Homo sapiens: one gene and its partner. The protein of the gene in region 1 purifies or fractionates together with the protein of each later gene. This does not show direct contact. Each region holds a gene or a part of one and is shown in the gene's direction. Other genes may lie near its edges.

Region 1 (3,500 bases):
TCCAGGTGGGTGCAGTAAGGGCCCTGGAGTAGTTTATGCACATGTGTTCCTTGCCTGGGAGATCAGGGGTTTTACACAGTCCGACTCATGAGATTGATGCCCAGTTAGACTTCTCTTGAAGACTACTCTGCGATCTAAGTGCTCAGACCTGCTGGGCAAGTGACCTTCTGTTTTTACTTGAAGAAAAGATCAGTGTGATTATTCTATAAACTGGTCCAGTTTGGGGCCCCACAACTTGAACAAAGAGAAAAACTTGGAGCAAGATCAGAGAAAACATCTAAAATGATTAATAAAAGGTTGAAAAAGAGTATTTATGAAAAAATAAAATGGAGGAGGCTGTGAAATGTAAGATGCTATAGATGCTTGAAGTGCTGTCATAGAAATATTTATTGATTGTGTGATCTCTATGCTGACAGTAAAAATCATGTCGCCCCTTTCTCAAGATAATCATATGACTTCTGATTATACTTAGAATAGAATCCATCTTCTTACCCTAATTTGCGAAGTTCTGCATGACATATGCCTTCTGCCCACCTTGCTAAACTTCGTTTTACTTTGCACATCCTATCATCCTGCGTTAGGATGACCAGCTCTCCCAATTTGTTCAGGATTGAGAGCCTTCTAAGGATGTAGGACTTTAAACTTTAAAGCTAGGACTGTTCCAGGCAAACTGAGATATGTGGTTTCCCTATCCTCCAGACATGGATCATCTTTGTTACTTTCAGCATCTCCTCTTCAGGCATATCTCTGCCTGAAATATTTTCCTGCCAAGTGTAATCTTAGGACCACATCTGAAATCTGTGTTATGTATGGGTTTAGTTATTTTATTTGTTATTTCCCAATAATGATAGCCTTTGCAAAAACCATCCATCAGAAAGAGGACATACCTTAACCATGGAGCCCTTGGTACTTTCCTCTTCATACCACAGTATGGCTTGTGATTCCAAGGAAAAAGTTGTGTAATAACCTTACAAGCAGCTTCAGTTCCTTCCTGGTAAACCTGTGGTCCGTGGAACATGTGTTTTGATCCAGCAGTTCCTCTGCCACCTGGAATCTTGAGATAAGTGTGTGGGTCAGTGTGCATGTGTGCCCATACATGCTTATGAGGAGGTCAGTGTGTGAGGGGAATCAGGAAGTCTCTTTTTTATTTTTAAATGAAATCAAGTAAAACTTAACCTTGGCTTCAAAAATATCTCTCAAATACTGTAAACAATACCTTTGATACTTTTTAGAAAGAGATTATGGCCAGGCGTAGTGGCTCACGTCTGTAATCCCAGAACTTTGGGAGGCCGAGGTGGGCAGACCACCTGAACTCAGGAATTTGAGACCATCCTGGGCAACATGGTGAAACCCATCTCTACTAAATACCAAAAAAAAAAAAAAATTTAGCCAGGCATGGTGGTTCGTGCCTGCAGTCCCAGCTACTCAGGAGGCTGTGGGATGAGAATCGCTTGAGCCCCAGAGGCAGAGGTTGCAGTGAGCCCATATCGCACCACTGCACTCCAGCCTGGGCAACAGAGCAAGACTCTATCTCAAAAAAAGAAAAATAAAGAGATTACTATAATTTTATCATAGATTGCCTGGTTATAGCAAAGACAGAAAATCAGTAAATCAAGATTTAATGAAGTTTTAGAAATATTTAGCTTCAATTATGATTGGTGACCTAAGTTCTCAATCTTGACAATATTAACACTAAGCCTAGGCCTGATTAGATATTGAGATACAAAACCTTTCCAACATCTCAGCCACTTTTAAAGACCATCAAGGAGTCAATTGTTCCAATCCACTGGATAAAGATATAATTTACATTTTACTTATATAATTGAAATATTATTCCAAACAATACTAAGTTTCTTGCTCAAGATAGCACAGTTTGTTAAAGCTAAAAAATACTTATATATGCAAAAAACACTTGTCACATATTATCACTGTCAATGATATAGTGATCTTTAATTAAAGGAGGACATAAATCTAGAATTTAAACAAAATCTTCTAACCAGCATAGTTTCAGTTCATATTTAAAAATCTGTGCCTTTATGCCACAATGATGGCATCAAGTTTTTACTCTTTAAGAAACATAGTGATAATGTCTCAAACTTGACCCTGTTTATTTGATCATGAGTTAGTACACCAAAAATAATGATGGGAAATTAGAAAAAATGGAATCCTGAGAAACACTACATTGAATTATTGTGTGTGCTATTTTACAACATGGCAGCTTAAATAGTTTTAAAAAACTAGTGATGTCTTTGAATATGAATCTACTACTATGTCCCAAGGTAACATCTCAAAGGTTATTTTGTTTAGTTTTAAGAAAATGACTTCTATATTCTTCCCCACTCCTCCTATTCACATCACTGGAGATACAAATACTGCTTATCCAGCCATGATAATCTATAAAACATTTATTTTTTATCTTCCAATTCATCCAGTTTTTCTGAAGCTTATTGATTGGGGTGTAAAGCTGGTGACTAATATCAAAGATATACTGTAAACCATTTTGATTACAAATAGTTAACATCCAGGATAGTATATATGATTGTTACTTAAAATTAAAATTATCTTAGCAAGGATGAAAATCCCTTAGTAAAAAATAAATATGTATTAGTTCAGCTAACCCTATTCAATTAGATCATTAATTAATTTTCCAGTTGATTTTGAATTTAATGTTGGAAACATAAAATATTGGAGTGGAGGGATCTCTTTTTCATCATCCAGCCTGGCATTTGTTTTTCTGGAGAAGATACTGTATATTGGGTTACCAGCGGAAACATCAGTATGACTGGGGTCTCTAGATTCCTAGTCCAGTTTTCTCTCTTCCATACAACAGTGACATATACTTGGTCTTCTTCCATTTTTCTCTTGTTGGTCCAAGCATATTTTTACATGTTTTAAAATGTTTTCTGCCAGGCACATTGCAAGCAACCCGTGCCTTGATGGTGGTTGGCATCCTCCTGGGAGTGATAGCAATCTTTGTGGCCACCGTTGGCATGAAGTGTATGAAGTGCTTGGAAGACGATGAGGTGCAGAAGATGAGGATGGCTGTCATTGGGGGTGCGATATTTCTTCTTGCAGGTAATAGAGGCTGTGCCCCCCTTTCACCTTACTAACCTGTTCCTGGTATGATTTGAAATCTATTACGTTGGATTCATTATACTTGATTTCAGTCTCTAAGGCAAACTGCAAACATAGACCTGAAGTCCAGTTGACTTTCATGTTCTCAAACACAAACTAAATGAAAATGTGAGAGCTCTGCTCACATCTGACAGGTCTATTGGTTGAAGTTTCAAGTGGCAACTGGTTTGTTAGAACCAGTCTCTTCCAGTGAAGAAAGTTGTTCACTATTTAGCAAACGCTAAGGAGGAAGTTCATGTAATTCAGATAATTCCTATGGTGTCTCCACAGATACTATGTGGAAAAGATGGGGAGTAGTGAGAGAAAACACAAGAATATGTGAACCCTTCAGGTCTGTGAGGGATGGAAGGATTGGGATTATTGGA
Region 2 (3,500 bases), on another chromosome or scaffold:
CTTGTATAGCTTAGCCTGAATCCTGATGGTGACTGACAGGGAGGTATAATTTGGAAAGAATAAGGACTGTCAGAGAACTGGCGGGGGAAATTTTGGAATAGTATTTTAAATAATAGGGCTACATTGGGTTCCATTGTACTCCATTACAATGTAGCTGAGAGTACTGGGAGATTATTATAAAAGTTTTTGTATGGTTTTATGCTTTAACTTGTAGATTTGTAGTTCATTTTTGCCGAGTCCCAGCACTTAGAAAGAATATAACATTCATTAACAGTAAGCACTAGGGTAGCAATAGTTTTTCAATAGGGAGACACATTTATCCCATTCCTTGTATCCCTAGAGTATATCAGAGTTTCCCAGTAAGAGTTCCTACCTAGGCTCGGATACAGACTTCTCAAAAGATTCAGGTATGCCCCATTGGGTGGCACATCACCTAGATGTTGGGTGATAAAGAAATTCTGGAGACTCGCATGGGGTTGCCAACTTCTTTTTCCAGATAAGACCACTGCCATCTGTTATTACCTTCAACACGGAAAAGACATTTTCACACCAAAAAAAAGGGCATCTCAGAGTAAAAGAGGATCCTTCCCACGAAAGGATGTTTGTTAGCCTTACATGTGGCAGGAAAACTGCAACACTACTGTATTTCCTGAGATTCTTGGGCTTTTGGGACCTGATGCCATAGACAGTGGGAAGCCATGAAAGATTTCTGATGTTACTGTTTTTAGTTTTATGCATAAAGATTATTTTCCTTTCCTAGAATTAGGAAATGCTGAAGCCTTAGCATGACACTATTTTCTTAGAGTCACTGGTTAAAAATGTTACAAGAAAGTAAAGTGTATAGAGTAAGGTATAAATATTGCCACAATCATATTTCTGAATCTACTTGATTTTACTTAAAGGTGGTCTTGGCTTTCTAAAACAATTTTTTAAAATGAAATGATGTCATTTGCATCTCTGATTCTACCTTTTTCTTTAGAAGCTCTATTTTCTCTTGGCCCAGAAGAGCTTGGTTTGTTTGAAGATAAGGATAAACCCGATGCAAAGGTATTTTTATTATTATTATTATTATACTTTAAGTTTTAGGGTACATGTGCACAATGTGCAGGTTAGTTACATATGTATACATGTGCCATGCTGGTGCGCTGCACCCACTAACTCATCATCTAGCATTAGGTATACCTCCCAATGCTATCCCTCCCCCCTCCCCCCAACCCACAACAGTCCCCAGAGTGTGATGTTCCCCTTCCTGTGTCCATGTGTTCTCATTGTTCAATTCCCACCTACGAGTGAGAATATGTGGTGTTTGGTTTTTTGTTCTTGCGATAGTTTACTGAGAATGATGATTTCCAATTTCATCCATGTCCCTACAAAGGACATGAACTCATCATTTTTTATGGCTGCATAGTATTCCATGGTGTATATGTGCCACAGTTTCTTAATCCAGTCTATCATTGTTGGACATTTGGGTTGGTTCCAAGTCTTTGCTATTGTGAATAATGCCACAATAAACATACGTGTGCATGTGTCTTTATAGCAGCATGATTTATAGTCCTTTGGGTATATACCCAGTAATGGGATGGCTGGGTCAAATGGTATTTCTAGTTCTAGATCCCTGAGGAATCGCCACACTGACTTCCACAATGGTTGAACTACAGTCCCACCAACAGTGTAAAAGTGTTCCTATTTCTCCACATCCTCTCCAGCACCTGTTGTTTCCTGACTTTTTAATGATTGCCATTCTAACTGGTGTGAGGTGGTATCTCATTGTGGTTTTGATTTGCATTTCTCTGATGGCCAGTGATGATGAGCATTTTTTCATGTGTTTTTTGGCTGCATAAATGTCTTCTTTTGAGAAGTGTCTGTTCATGTCCTTCGCCCACTTTTTGATGGGGTTGTTTGTTTTTTTCTTGTAAATTTGTTTGAGTTCATTGTAGATTCTGGATATTAGCCCTTTTGTCAGATGAGTAGGTTGCGAAAATTTTCTCCCATTTTGTAGGTTGCCTGTTCACTCTGATGGTAGTTTCTTTTGCTGTGCAGAAGCTCTTTAGTTTAATTAGATCCCATTTGTCAATTTTGTCTTTGGTTGCCATTGCTTTTGGTGTTTTAGACATGAAGTCCTTACCCATGCGTATGTCCTGAATGGTAATGCCTAGGTTTTCTTCTAGGGTTTTTATGGTTTTAGGTCTAACGTTTAAGTCTTTAATCCATCTTGAATTGATTTTTGTATAAGGTGTAAGGAAGGGATCCAGTTTCAGCTTTCTACATATGGCTAGCCAGTTTTCCCAGCACCATTTATTAAATAGGGAATCCTTTCCCCATTGCTTGTTTTTCTCAGGTTTGTCAAAGATCAGATAGTTGTAGATATGTGGCATTATTTGTGAGGGCTCTGTTCTGTTGCATTGATCTATATCTCTGTTTTGGTACCAGTACCATGCTGTTTTGGTTACTGTACCCTTGTAGTATAGTTTGAAGTCAGGTAGTGTGATGCCTCCAGCTTTGTTCTTTTGGCTTAGGATTGACTTGGCGATGCGGGCTCTTTTTTGGTTCCATATGAACTTTATTTTCTCTTGGCCCAGAAGAGCTTGGTTTGTTTGAAGATAAGGATAAACCCGATGCAAAGGTATTACATCTATGATTTACTGGGGTGTTTTAGCGTATTCAGAAAATTTTTTTTAAAGAAGGAATTAAGTGGCTTGTTCACAAAGCAATAATTTTATTAATTATCAAATATGCTCTTTATTTCCAGAAAGTGACTTGGCCTATACCCTATGGGTAATGGAATTTGCCTTCCGAGAAAGAATCAGTTTTCCAAGTACAATACTGCTACTGCTTTATAAACATGTAACACTCTTTACTATGCTTATTCTTTCTTCTGGTGAAGGAAATATTTGCAGAACATCCACATTAGCTTCCCCCAGAAGTCTATTTAAAGCACTTTTTTTGCAACAATACCGACCTCTCCACCCCACACAAAAAAAAATAGAGGCTAGTATTCTTTCAATTTGGTACTCTGGAAATAAATTGAGTAATGAGTTAATTATTTTGTTTGTTATTGTGGTGATATTTAAAGTGCATATCTAATCATGTTCCTCCCTGCTTAAACATAACTCAAAAGTTTCTTACCATGTTCAGGCTCAAATTTGTACTTCTTAGGAGTCTTTCATGATCTAGCCCAGTACTTCTCAGGCTACCTGTGTGGCAAAGGACCTGTTTTTGTGTATTTCTTTTTATTCCCAATCTGTTGCAGATTAGCACTTTTCTAGTATATAATAAAAATGCCATGGGAATGTCAAATTGCCATTACAATTTCTAAATGCTTATTCTCCTTTAAATACTTAAAGTCTAGCCTACAGACCAGACTCTGAGCAACATTGCTCAGTCTGCCCCAGCCCTCACCACATCAAGTAAGGCAGGAACTCACTTGGAGCCAGGAGAAAGTGAGGCAGGGTGTGCTGAGAACTCCAGAGCGAGATACAGTATTGTGCCTGGAAAATTTC

What was found. Proteins that work in one complex are often made in the same cells at the same time.
Region 2: the proteins of CLDN1 (region 1) and USP40 purify together in Homo sapiens (affinity purification with western blotting; one study listed by BioGRID). This does not show direct contact.

What each region holds. Positions count from the first base shown.
Region 1 is NC_000003.12:190,312,447-190,315,946, reverse strand, and holds part of CLDN1 (claudin-1), read left to right. Parts: intron 1-887; exon of another isoform or gene 888-1,054; intron 1,055-2,910; coding exon 2,911-3,075; intron 3,076-3,500.
Region 2 is NC_000002.12:233,560,283-233,563,782, reverse strand, and holds part of USP40 (ubiquitin carboxyl-terminal hydrolase 40), read left to right. Parts: intron 1-979; coding exon 980-1,047; intron 1,048-2,516; exon of another isoform or gene 2,517-2,623; intron 2,624-2,749; coding exon of another isoform or gene 2,750-2,779; exon of another isoform or gene 2,780-3,040; intron 3,041-3,500. UniProt on the Homo sapiens protein: May be catalytically inactive.